Linked DNA regions of Homo sapiens. The protein of the gene in region 1 interacts with the protein of each later gene in a pairwise test. Each region holds a gene or a part of one and is shown in the gene's direction. Other genes may lie near its edges.

Region 1 (7,028 bases):
GTCAGGAGTTCGAGACCAGCCTGGCCAACATGGTGAAACCTCGTCTCTACTAAAAATACAAAAAATTAGCCAGGCATGGTGGTGCATGCCTGTAGTCCCAGCTACTTGGGAGGCTGAGGCAGGAGAATCACTTGAACAGGCAGAGGTTGCAGTGAGCCGAGATCGCGCCATTGCATTCAAACCTGGGTGATAGGAGTGAAACTTCATCTCAAAAAAAAAAAAAAAAAAATAGAAGGCTCTGTAGCAGGGAATGGGCCAGGAGGCTGAACAGAGAAATGGGCCTTTCTACCCCAGGAGGGCTCAAGGGGTGGGAGAAGGCAGAGCTGTATTGGGAAAGAATTTAGAAGGTATCAAGTGCTTTGGGGACGGCCCATTGTCTCGCAGTGCAAGGACCACACATAGTCGCATCCCTTGGCAGAGACCCAAATGCCCCTGCATTTGACACAAGGAAATTCACAGGGCGCTGTACCAGATTCCTCTTTTCAGAGCATTATTAAAGTCTTATTTTGAAATTTCTGTCTTTAATGGTATCCCAAGGGGTCTATGAAAGATGCAATTTCAAGTGCCCTTATCTGGGATGATCACCATCCTAGTTGAGTTGCCTCTAGTCCCAAATTTTTCTAGAGAAAGCTTTTACCTCTGTCTTGAGTGGTCCAGGGGCCTTGAGCAGTGCTGAACTGCAGTTCCGCCAGTGGCCAAGGCCCTAGATGGTGTTTCTAGGTTCTGGCTGTGCCCCTTATAAAGTACTGCTTCCTCCCCATTGCTCATACCTTACCACCTTACCTCTCTTCACTCTGCCCCCAGTATGGTTCTTGTTCAACCAACTCTTCACTAGTTCCTTTCTCTCCATCCCCTCATCCCCTTCCCTAGCAACTCTACCTTCCTGCCCTTGCTCCAGAAACATTCCCTTACCTCTAATAGCCTAGCAATTCCTTTCCATGGAAAAAGTGCAATTGGCACCAAAAATCAATAAGCTTGTATTTATCTGGAAGATTAGCATGATAATCAGCCAGTTAGAATGGCTGTGTTAACCGTATCAAGAATAAGTAAGTAAGATGTAGTTTTAGGGGAAATAATGCATCTTTCAGCTTTACAAGGAAACAGAGCAGACTGCACCAACAGCTCTGATTGGGTGCTTGGGTTTTATTTGAAATGTATTCAGCTTACACTCCATTGCACACTAACATTAAATTCACAGCTATTTGTTAACTTTTTGGAAAGAATGAATGAACAGAAAGTCTGTACTAACTGTGCTCAACAGTCTGAATGTCAAGTTTTTGGTGGCCCTGCTGCTTGTATGTTCTCCATGATTTCACTGTGTCCCCACATTCTGGTTTACCACCTTAAGCTTGAACATCTATGATCCTTACCTCTTTCTCTATCAGAGTCTGATTCTGATTCACTATTCTTTAGGGCAAGCAAACAGACCAATCAAAATTTAAAAGGATAAAATCTTCCTTGTGTACAAGTAGACAATGTCCTCAGACTGGCAAACTGCTGTAAGCTTTTTAAGTGTGTACCTGTTTTCTTAAGTGGAATGTAAGTATAGTTCGGCAGCTCAGCAGTCAGAACAGGGATTGAATCCCAGCCCTGCTGCCTACTATCTGTGTGACAGAGACGTTCTTGGCCTCCCTTGGGCTTGGTTTCCTTATCTAGAAAATGGAAAATGACAATAACTACCCTATACAGATCGTACATTTAAAGAGCCCAACACAATGCCTGTCATTCATAAATACTCAAAAATTTAAGTATAATAAGAGTAATAATAATTATCATAAGAAGCAAGATAATCACAAATTATACACACATTTTATATATATATGAAAACATATATACATTTTGTGTATATTTAATCACAGAAGCTCAGGGTTGAAAGGTTTCTTAAAGGCTAGAAAGTTTAGACATAAGTTTGATGCTTCAGACTTCTCTGCAACACCTCCAGCCAATGGTCCCATTGTATGCCTGGTCACTTCTAGGGCTGGAGATCTTCCTCTCTCCCAATTTATGAACAGAAGAGTCTTTCCTATGTTAAGCTGCACCCCTGTCTCCCTGTAAATTCAACTCACTGGTCTTCATCCAAACCCTTGGGGAACGTATTAATGAGGGTGACACAGATGTCTCTTTGCTGCGGCAAGGCTTTCAGCACTGAATCAGCTCTCTCCCTCTCCAAGACAAATGTCAGAGCCCAAAGAGTCAGCTCATCTAATTATACAAGTCATGTGACATTAGGGTAATCTCTAGAGCTTGAGGGTCCACAGAGCCCCAAGTCATATAGTCAACATATCCATAGCCACACCCCAGCCTCAGTTTCTAGAATGTTCCAATCTTCCCCACATCTGAACACAGATTCCTCCTCCACTGCTTTCTTTTGAGCACCACAGCATCGTCTTTACCTTTTGCCCAATGAGTAGGTCGCAGCGGAGTTGATGCAGCAAGCCTGCGGACTGCTGCCAATGCAACTTATGTTTCTTGGCTTCAGGTAGAAGCTTTTGGCAGCAACGTGTTCAATCTGCCCTACATCAAATTAGCTGTGGTTTGACATCTTCCTTTCCTCCGAGATGACAATCACCTATCTTCTCCATCCATTATCCTCTTAATTATGTCTGAGATTCAGGTGAAAAGTCTTCTGGTTTACCACCAGTGTCAGGGCTCAGTGTGTGGTTTGCCCTTGACTCCTTTCCATGCTTGGCTCCACATGCTGGGGTTGTTCTCTGGCCCTCAGACATGGCCATAGGCCTCGCCTACCAGTGCTTTACAGATGAGGGTTTGGGAGCTACTGAGAGTACCATATCAAAAAAGGACCACATTCCTATTAGGGTTCTAGCCTCATATATACTGGTATGTTTTCTTAGTTTCAACTGCTGTCACTATTATCAACCTTAAAATACTGAAACAATTATCTTGTTCCTCTAGTGAGAGTGTGGGATGCTTACTATTCGACATTTTCAGCATCTATCCTATAAATGGCTGGCACCAAGACACTGTACATCGATTGCTTTAAAAATTGACAGAGTAGGGAGAGAGCCTCTTTTTATGATTGTGTTATAAATCCCTGGCCTTGACTATCTCTGACATAAAATGGATCGGTGATTCCTTTCGTAATTGTGACATCAACAAACAATCTAATTCTGTTTTAATTCTCCTTTTGTTGAGCATCTCACACAAGCACCCTGCACACTTAGTTCCTTTTCTCCTGCAGACAACTGTAGGGTTCATTGTATATAGTACAGATGTTGATTAAAAAAGAGAAAGGCATAACTTGACCAGTTAGTTTCTAAAAGATATCAATAGCTAATAAGTGGACCTAAGATAATCAGCTGAAAAATTATTTGAAATAATAAGAGAATGCAGTCAGCTTCTAAAATTAAAACAAAATGTAATAACGTTCCTATATGCAAAACATAACCAATTAGGAAATTAATGGAAGGAAAGATCCTGTTTATAATACCAATGACAACAGCAAATGGAAGGAAGGAATAATTTAACAAAAATTATGAAGAGTGTATCCTAAATGATTTTTAAAAGATTCAAATAATTGGAAAGATATACCTTATGTAAAGTTAGCAATTTTCCTTAAGTTAATTGATAAATTTAATGAGATCCCAATAAAAAACCCAATAGGGTTTTCTGGGATTTGGGCAAGAACTAGATTAGCTATTCTAAGTTTCCAGTGAAAAAAAATCATATGACAATTGCCAGGAAAATTCTAAAGAAGAAGTATAATGAAAAAAGATTAACTGACCAACATATTAAAGTGAAACACAAATACAGAAATCAAAACAATGTGGAAAAGACAGAACATTGAACAGGATAGAATATGGAAACAGACCCAAAAACAAATTCAGATTTTAAGACCCAAATACATATTTCAACTCCTAGGACACAAGTATAAATACAAAATGGGCTGGGCACGGTGGCTCACGCTTGTAATCCTAGCACTTTGGGAGGCCAAGGTGGGCAGATCACTTGAAGTCAGGAGTTCGAGACCAGCCTGGCCAACATGGTAAATGTTAAATTTTTTAAAAAAAGGAAGCTAAAGAAACTTGAAAAGACAAATAACCATTAAAAATTTATCTTGGAATGAGGAATTATTTTCTAAATAAAACATAAAACCCTGAAGCCATAAAGGAAAAGATTGATATACATTACTTTTATTCATAAAAAGTAAAAGTTTCTTTATAGATCAAAATACTGTATGCAAAATCAAAGGCAAATGACAAGCTGAGGAAAAATATCTGTAATACATATGACCAAAAAAGGTATGTTTACTTACTATATGAGAGAGCTCTTATGAATAGGAGATGATTAACAACCCAAAAGAAAAATGAACAATGGGCCGGGCGCGGCGGCTCACGCCTTAATCCCAGCAATTTGGGAGGCCGAGGCGGGCGGATCACGAGGTCAGCAGATCGAGACCATCCTGGCTAACACAGTGAAACCCCGTCTCTACTAAAAATACAAAAAATTAGCCAGGCGTGGTGGCGGGTGCCTGTAGTCCCAGCTACTTGAGAGGCTGAGGCAGGAGAATGGCGTGAACCCGGGAGGCGGAGCTTGCAGTGAACCAAGATAGCGCCACTGCACTCCAGCCTGGGAGACAGAGCGAGACTCCGTCAAAAAAAAAAAAAAAAAAGTAAAGAAAAATGAACAATGACTATGAATAGGCAATTTACAGAAAAGAGAAATAAGTGGCAAATAAATGTGTGAAAAGATGGTAGACCTTATTTAGTTAGGAAAATGCCAATTAAAGCAGCAGTGAGGCTGGCAAAGATGAAACATGTTGTTGATACACGATGTTGCCAAGGTAATGGAGAAGCAGGCACCATCACACACAGCTAGTAGTAGAGTCTGCATAACCCTGGTAGAAGGCAATTTGCCCACGTCCATTCAAATTATAGGTGCACATACCCTGCGACTCAGCAATTTGACATCCAGGAGTGTGTTCACAAACAAATCCACACATCATACAATTCTGTACATGTAAAGATAATCATTGCTGCATTGTTTCTTATAGGAAAGACTGAACATAAGCTAAAAAAATCCACCAATAAGGGATTCAATAAATTATTGTCCATTCTGTGGAATATTGCAGATATGTTAAAATAATGAGTTACATCTGAATGTGCTAATCTGGAAGGATTATCACTTCTGTACTTTAAGTTAAAAAGGCATAAATATAGTCCATAGTTTGCTACCATTAGTTTTTTAATTTAATGTTTTATTTATTTATTTATTTTTTATTTTTAGAGACAGGGTCTCACTATGTTGCCCAGGCTGGTCTCGAACTCCTGAGCTCAAGTGATCTGCCCTGCCCACCTTGGCCTCCCAAAGTGCTGGGATTACAGGTGTGAGCAACAGCACCCAGCCCCTTCTGTGTTTTTAATAAAAAGAAAAAGTTACATATATGCATAAGTATAAATGCAAACTTTTTCAAATAGATTATAAAAAATTGTTAATGATATTTATTTCTGAAAAGTAGGACTAAAGATCTAAAGCAAGAGGGAGATACTTGGCATTCTTTACCTTTTATACAGTTTGGGATTTTTTATCACATGCTTTTATCTTTATAATATAGATATCAAAATTCTCAGCATTGATCATTACCACACATGCATTAGGAGGATTTCTTTTCTAATTTTGACATCAAACATTGAATAATCTTCCATCACGACATGGAAGAGTATTCAATCTTGACGTTATCTTTTGAACATCATACATAAATATCTCAGCCCTTGGGAGAACCAACTGTAAGTTGGGATTTGAGTGACTCTAAGGTCCACAGTACTATATGATAAAAGATGGCAAATCCGTTTCCTTTGTGTAGCCATCTTGGTTGGTTGGTCATGGCTATCTGGTGCCGTACAGCTGGAAGGATTTCAAGTCAAAGACCAGGATCAGTGGAAAAGAGAGCTGAGGTCAATTAAGAAGCTTTATTCATGAAAAGGCTAAAATCAGTGGAGTTGCCGGGAGCAGTGGCAAATAGCAGTGTTAGCCCTGAGCCGAGCTGTTGACAAGTCATATCTGGCCTGGTGGATGGAGCTGAAAGCAAGTGAGAGTAACAGCCAAGTTTGAAAGCTTGAGATTTAGGTACTGTCTTAGATGGAAGTGGGCCAGGTGCTTGCCTGGGGCTGCCTCCTGAAGGAGTCTCACACCAGTATAAGAAAAAAGAGAGGTTTACAGGCTCCAGGGATGTGCTTTGTCATATATGACAGAAAAGTCATGAGTATAAATTATGCATTAAATGAAGCTTTGAGCTAACACTGTGAGAAATACGGTATTTACAATTGGAGAAAAATTGAGTAATGGAGGAAAAGATGTTTGGGTAGCACTATTGTTCTTGGCCTTCTGAGGAGGCAGAGAAGGATGCTTACGGTCCTATTTCACTCCTGGAATTCTTTTGCTCTCTCTGGGAGACCATGCCATAATGTTTGTTGGCACAGATAAGTCACAGGTCAGGAATGTTCAGGCTAGTTCCACCCTTAAAAAGTTCAATGTAGAATCAGTGAACCATCTATGGAAAGAGATGCGACCCTTCTGTCTCCATTGCTATGAATTTCTTTTAAGAAAAAACCATGTTAATTGAACAAACGACTATGTATTAACCACTGTGCCTCAAGTGCTCTCCCTGCAGCATCTCATTTAATCTGCATAAAAGCTGTATTTTATAATTCCTTGCATTAAGTAACTTGATGGAGATGACACAGCTTGTGACTAGGTCTGTCTGACGTCAGAACCCATTTTCCTAACCATTAAGTTTTACTGCCTCTTTCTTCAAACTCTGATGAAGATGTATTCATCTTCCCTAACCTATATTTTCCTTGAATCTCTACATGAATTAATTTTTTTGTCTTTTAAGCAATATCCTCCAAAATCTACACTGTCCCCCAGCCATCATCAGGCGTGATCAAGAAAGTAAAGACATGTTTACTTTCAATACAGTATATCCATTGTACAATTGATATCATATATGTCATATATATCATGATATCAACATATATAGATAGGTACTATATATAGATAGATACAATTGG
Region 2 (7,028 bases), on another chromosome or scaffold:
AGTAATGAGAACCCTTGTGTTTTTACCAGCAGGCCTATTTCTGACAAAGTTGTTATTATTCTAAAACTGAATTTTCAAAAAGTTGTTTTTGGTTTTACCTTGATTCAAAACCAAAGGAATTTGTCATTAAGTCACTTGTGGAGTTTTATAAAACTAGTCAAAATTTGGTGTATGTCCTCAGAGTACTTTTTGGTGCCATTGTTAGACTAATGCTTAATTTGGTGTTTCTTATGAAATAATTTAAATTTGACATCACTTATTATATCTGGAGAGTTGATCAAGTTATAAAAAGAAAAAACAACTTAGCAATCTACAAAATTCCTTTAAATTAAGGCACAGGGTGCCTGTTTGAACTAATACAAAATGTGTTTTGTTTCTTCGTAGGGAATTCACAATTGAAACTGAAGGGAAAACATTTCAGTTAACAAAAGACATGATCAATGTGAAGAGATTCCAGAAAACACTATATGGTAAATTTGTAAAAATAATAAACAAAAAGTCACTGCTCCTTAAAGCTTTTGTTGTTGTTTGAGACAGGGTCTTGCTCTGTCACCCAGGCTGGAGTGCAGTGGCACAACCTCTGCCTCCCCGGCTCAAGCGTTCCTCCCTCCTGTCTCAGCCTCCGAATTAGCTGGGACTACAGGTGCAGGCTACCATATCCAACTAATTTTTGTATTTTTTGTAGAGATGAGGTTTTTGCCATGTTGCCCAGGCTGATCTTGAACTCCTAGGCTCAAGCAGTCCACCTGCCTTCGCGTCCCAAAGTGCTGAGATTACAGGCATGAGTGACCACGCCTGGCCCTCATTCCCTGTCTTCTTTGGCAAAATAACTTGTTAAAAAGTCATTTAGGGGCCGGGCGTGGTGGCTTACGCCTGTAATCCCAGCACTTTGGGAGGCCAAGGCGGGTAGATCACGAGGTCAGGAGTTCAAGATCAACCTGGCCAACATGGTGAAACCCCGTCTCTACTAAAAATACAAAAATTAGCTAGGCATGGAGACACGCACGTGTAATCCCAGCTACTCGGGAGGCTGAGGCAGGAGAATCCCTTGAACCCGGGAGGTGGAGGTTGGAGTGAGCCGAGATCACGCCATTGCACTCCAGCCTGGGCGACAGTGCAAGACTCCGTCTCAAAAAAAAAAAAAAAAGTAATTTAGACCAGTGATGTTGCATGCTTTTTTAAAAGTTAAGAAGATGTTTTTTTGTAGAACAAATTCTGTGAATTAGGCAATGAGTAATTTGGAGCACGTATGAAGGATGCTGAAGTTTATTTGTGGCTGAATTGAAATTCCTGGAAACGGAGTAGTAATGGGTGTTTGAGAAGCTACTGCCAGTGGAAAGAGTGAGCATACCTTTCCTTTTGTTCTTGGCTTGTCTTGTAGCCAGGCTTCAGTGAGCAGTGTTAGGAGTAAGCGGGGGCTTCTCCATCACACTCTGGGGCTTTTCCGTCACAGTCTGGGGCTTTATAGCCATGATCCTGGCAGCTGGTTCAGAGCTGCACATCACCATTACTCAGATACCACAGAAGGATGGGAGGAAAATGCCTTGATCATGTTTCTAAAGTATTAACTCTTTATCATAGACAAACAGGCTCTCTTTTCCCATATGTGTGTGAGTTTTGGTACCAATGATCTCATTTCCCAAAAAACATAAACTCTTCCAAAGTTATGACCAGTTATCTTAGACCTGGACATTGCTTAGCAGTGCTTCTTCCTTTCCACATAATAAGTAATAATTATCAGTATATTTCCTGTGTATACCACGGGTGTTGTCTTACCCACATGAAGAGCTGTGAGCCCCTGTAAGATGTCTTTGATGGAGTGCTGTTCTTTGAGCAAACTCTCCCCTAAGGGCGTCCTGACCCCAGAACCTTGGTGATACAATGCCAGTAATTTGGTTCTGAACAAGTTCTTATCAAGATAACAAGCTAAAAAGTTAAACAAATACAAACCATGTAATACTTTTTGCATGTAGGAATTGTTTTTGTGAATTTTGCCAGCTGTGTTAGATTTTAAATTCTAGCAAAATCTTATTAAAAGCCTTAGATTTTTTATGCTTTCTGGGTAGCCGAGGCAGGTAATAGAGATAAAGTGTAGCTGCTGCTATTCGTAGTTTGCTGACTGGTGAAGGAATATTCTAGTACCTCAGGTTTCATTTTTACACAGTATAAACAGAATTTGGTGAAAGGTTTTTTCACTCCAGCTTTCTCTTCAAAGGCATGTTTCCTATCAGCAAATAGTTTTTAGGTATGTTCTAGTTTCTTTGTTCTGATATACAGAGATAAAAATCCATCTAGAATAGAGATATTTTTAGTGCTAAGAATTTTTTTCTTTTCTTTTCTTTTTTTTTTTTTGAGATGAAGTCTCGCCCTTGCCTTCCAGGCTGGAGTGCAATGGCACGATCTTGGTTCACTGCAACCTCCGCCTCCTGGGTTCAAGCAATTCTCCTGCCTCAGCCTCCGGAGTAGCTGGGATTACACGCACCTGCCACCATACCCAGTTAATTTTTGTATTTTTAGTAGAGACGGGGTTTCACCATGTTGGTCAGGCTGGTCTCGAACTCCTGACCTCAGATGATCCACCTACCTCAGCCTCCCAAAATGCTGGGATTACAGGTGTGAGCCACCGCAGCTGGTGAATTGTTTAGAGAGAATCTGAAATGCATTATGTGGTATTTGAGAGAATGTTATTGAATTTCTATCTCTTTTTCAGTGGAAGAAGTTGTTCCGAATGTAATTGAACCTTCCTTCGGCCTGGGTAGGATCATGTATACGGTATTTGAACATACATTCCATGTACGAGAAGGAGATGAACAGAGAACAGTAAGTTGTTGTGTACAGTGTGCTGTTATAGTGTCAGAAAATAAAAATTTTCTGAATTACATTGTGAAGTACATTAATAAGACTCTAGAATGGTCAATTAGTTATTACTATAATCTAGTGCTATTAACACTCATCTTTGCTTAAGTATGTATAGACAAACCAGTTTCCTGTGTTATCTTATTTGAGCTTTAGGTTATTCTAGAAGCTATTGTTTTAGTTGCCTGGTGCTCTCTATTCTTAGACTGAACCTATTACTTTGGGGAACAATCTATATTATGTCAATGGAAGGAATGGTACTTTCTGGATATGCTGTGTTTCAGAAAATTGGGAAGGATGAGATAACTCCTAGAATTTAGCCAGACCACTAAGCTGTATCTGTACTCTGGTAAAGTATCAAAGGGAACCCTCTCAAACTGCATGAAATTGTCTGGGGTACTTTTGGGGTAAAGATGTGAATTCCTAGGTTCTACTCTGGAGATGCTGATTCACTAGGTCTGAGACCCAGGGATCTGGGGTTTTTTTAAAAAAAATAAGAATCCTGAGTGATTTCACTGTGAAAGCTTGACAGATCATAAATGGGATAATAGTTGTCTGGGGTATAGCCTTTCCTAGCATTCAAGTATTGCTGAAGATAGAAGTTTATAAGAAGTCTTCATCAGCTCCCACAAATTTTCTTTTCGGTCTGATGCTTCTGAATCACTGCTCCTTGCCTTCTTCCTCTTTATCTCCTTGCCTTACTTCACCATTTTTACCTCACCTCTGCCTGCAGAAGTTACACTCCTGGGCAGATTACTAGGAAAGCCAACCAGAAGAATGGCTAGAAAGGAGAGGTTGTATATGTCAGGTTAATTGAAAGAAACAGCGTCATCCACTTGGCCATTCTAAAGCTTGAGTGTACGTAATGTTAGACATCAACCGTGTGGTTCTTTCTAGGACATTTAACCTCAAAGAATGAACTAGTGAGTTCTCGGCACCAGTACTTTAGTCTGACACACTATTGTAATACATAGCTAATAAAGTTAGTATGGTACTCTCTGCCCTAAAGTTGCATCTTCATTTCCCAACCTTGAAGGAGCAGCCCTATTCATTCAACAGATTGTAAGAACCTGGGCTAGGCCCCAGGTGCGCAAACATAAGGCTTGGTTCTTTTTGAGAAATGATGACAAACATAACTGCATGTGTTCTTTTTAGATGTCAAGTCTGCTTCAAGCTTTGTCTGCTTATTTTTCTAATAAAAAGGTTTTAGAAAATCTTTTAGCTGTTCCTTTGAATCTAACAATATTAATATAACTAGAGCTTTAATAGAAATTTCGTAAGGGCTAAACAAGAATAAATTAGTCACAGTGTTTTATGAATTGCATGAATTCCCATCATGAAGAGAAATTTGATTAGGCTGTGGGAAGCCAAAAATGTTTCTAAATTATTAGCACCTAGTTCCTCAATCCATTTGCCTATAAATTTGGTATAAAAACATTGCTAGTGAAATTTTAAAAATTATTTTTCTATAAAGGCAGGTCCCTGTTACTCTCTTATATTAAATAGAAATATCACAAGATGGAGGAAGGGAATAGAATTCTGAACCTTCTGTGATGTGAGCAGCCATATTGGTGGAATACAGGCCTTACTTAGAGTGGGATATTCATTGCTTGGCAATAAAGGTTAATTGAACTTTGGGTGAGAGGCTAAACTGGAACCTGTGTCATTCATTATTTTTATGGGACAAATTTATTCTGTGTTTTTGCCTTCAAGTGAACCTTTTGTACAAGTATTAAGAACTGCCTTCAGTTCCCATTTCCAACCTAAAGTGGTTGATTGGTTTGCCTTCCACAGAATATTTTTATTTTCGCCTTTTTTTTTTTTTTTTTTTGGTCTCGCTTTGTTGCTCAGCTGGAGTGCAGTGGCACAATCTCAGCTGACTACAGCCTCAAACTTCTGGGCTCAAGCAATCCTCCTGCTTCAGCCTCCCAAGTAGCTGGGACCACAGGTGCGCCTCACAATGCCCAGCTAATTTTTTAGTTTTTGTAGAGATGGGGTCTTGCCATGTTGCCCTGGCTGGTCTTGAATTCCTGGGGTCAAGCAATTCTTCTGCCTCAGCCTCCCAAAGTGCTGGGATTACAGGCATGAGCCACTGTGTCCAGCCTTATTTTTGCTTTCTTTGATTTCTGAGTTACTCAGAAACTATTTCAGGGCAGTTTAAGAAGGCTGTACTTTTTAGTGTAGGTATATGGAACATCTTTTTTTGTTTTGTACTATTTCTTTTGGACATATGTTTGTGAGCTAATTAAACTTTTCTGTTTCACTTGGTCACTGAGGTTCATAGGTTTTTCTCTTAAAAGACAGAATGGGCTTTGGTTTGGGTCACTGCCACTTGTTTGAATATTTAGGTAGTCTCCACAGAAAGTCTTTTATGTGGAACCAAAAAATTACCGTCTTTTATATACAGTAGCTTTCAGAATGCTTTCACATCATTTGACTTTTTTAGTAACGGGCTTGTGAAGCAAGCAGAGCAGGTGGTAGAGACCTGCTTTTTAGGTGGAGAAACTAAGGTTCAGAAAGAGTTCATGACTTGGCCTAAATTCGGAGCTGAAACCAGGTGTTTCTGATGCTGGTTCTGCTTCTCTTTTGCCATACTGCTTTTCATGTCATGTTTTCTGGCATTTTGGTAATGACGTTATGCTTGAACACTTGCTGAATATTAACCTCTTTTGGTTTGGGATATTAGCATTTAGATATTTACAAATTAACATATTTGGATTTTTTTCTTTTTAAATCATCCAGTTCTTCAGTTTCCCTGCTGTAGTTGCTCCATTCAAATGTTCCGTCCTCCCACTGAGCCAAAACCAGGAGTTCATGCCATTTGTCAAGGAATTATGTAAGCAAATTCAATTGGGTAAACTCCATGGGAACACCATCAAGGAGACTGAATTTTAGGAAATGTATCATTTATTTCAATAAAAATATAGACTGAATAAAGAATATAAATGATTTTATAAAGAGTACATGATTTTAGCCTGTACTCTTATTTCTAAGCGAGAGGATATGCTTGCTCAGATGTTTTATTCTGGCATTTGAGTGAGGCAAGGTAGGACCCAAGAGTCAGATTTAAAAATTATTTACTTCTCATACTGACCTTGGTGCCAAGTTCATCGAGGGAACCTGAGTGGAGTGTAGCAACCATAATGGATCTACAGCCACAGAATCCACAGCCCTGAAAGGAATCCTGGTGGTCATCTGGCACATCCACTTATTTCAGAGCTGGGAAATGGGGAGAGTCCATTGACCTGCTTAGAGCCATAAAAATAGAGGTGGTGGAGTCAGGACTCACCTTCTGGCCTTGGCTCTTGGTCCCATATTTGTTCCCCCTATAGCTGTATCAGATGGAGGTATGAGTGAAGATTTGGATTCCCGCAAGGGATTTATTAAACTTTAGGGATATTTCTTTCTCTTGCAACTCAACTTGTTGCTTTCTTGTCTTGGTCCCATTTATAAGTCTCCTGAGCTTGTAAGACAGTAGTTAGATAACACTGGGCTTAACTCCATTGTTTTATTTTTAATTTACTTTGTTTATTTTGGATAGCGGAAGCCCTGACCAGGCATGGAGTATCTCACAAAGTAGACGATTCCTCTGGGTCAATCGGAAGGCGCTATGCCAGGACTGATGAGATTGGCGTGGCTTTTGGTGTCACCATTGACTTTGACACAGTGAACAAGACCCCCCACACTGCAACTCTGAGGGACCGTGACTCAATGCGGCAGATAAGAGCAGAGGTATCTGGCCTTCTCTTTGGCATTTTTAGCCTTAGAAATGTGTACTGCTTCTTACTGATTTGTGTTGGATTTTGATGTGTTTATGCTCCCTTTCCTTTTTTTTTCTTTTTAATTTTAATGAACGGCTTGTATCAGACAGAGCCCAGATTCTCAAGTCCCCCGGTTTAATTATGAAAATATCCATTAGCACTTCTCTAATATTTTATAAACATTTGTGTTGCTCCAGGCTTATTCTCCAGCAGTTTGCTTTTATACTTGTTTGTTTATTGGGCAAGAGAAATATGATCCTAAGAATTTGTTGCCATAGTTTTATTGGTAGGCTTTGGAGGGTTAGACATTTTAATGTTTTATTTTTACAGACGCGTATACATGTGTATGTATAAGCTTTTCCGTGTTCATATATTCAAAACAGTGAATCATGTTTCAGTAGTTTTGGTCAA

Evidence for each region. Proteins that work in one complex are often made in the same cells at the same time.
Region 2: the proteins of BATF (region 1) and GARS1 interact in binary tests that used the Homo sapiens proteins (3 or more experiments, as listed by UniProt).

Annotation. Positions count from the first base shown.
Region 1 is NC_000014.9:75,525,450-75,532,477, forward strand, and holds part of BATF (basic leucine zipper transcriptional factor ATF-like), read left to right. Parts: intron 1-7,028. UniProt on the Homo sapiens protein: AP-1 family transcription factor that controls the differentiation of lineage-specific cells in the immune system: specifically mediates the differentiation of T-helper 17 cells (Th17), follicular T-helper cells (TfH), CD8(+) dendritic cells and class-switch recombination (CSR) in B-cells.
Region 2 is NC_000007.14:30,625,850-30,632,877, forward strand, and holds part of GARS1 (glycine--tRNA ligase isoform 1 precursor), read left to right. Parts: intron 1-384; coding exon 385-470; intron 471-2,710; coding exon 2,711-2,820; intron 2,821-5,598; coding exon 5,599-5,692; intron 5,693-6,397; coding exon 6,398-6,588; intron 6,589-7,028. UniProt on the Homo sapiens protein: Catalyzes the ATP-dependent ligation of glycine to the 3'-end of its cognate tRNA, via the formation of an aminoacyl-adenylate intermediate (Gly-AMP).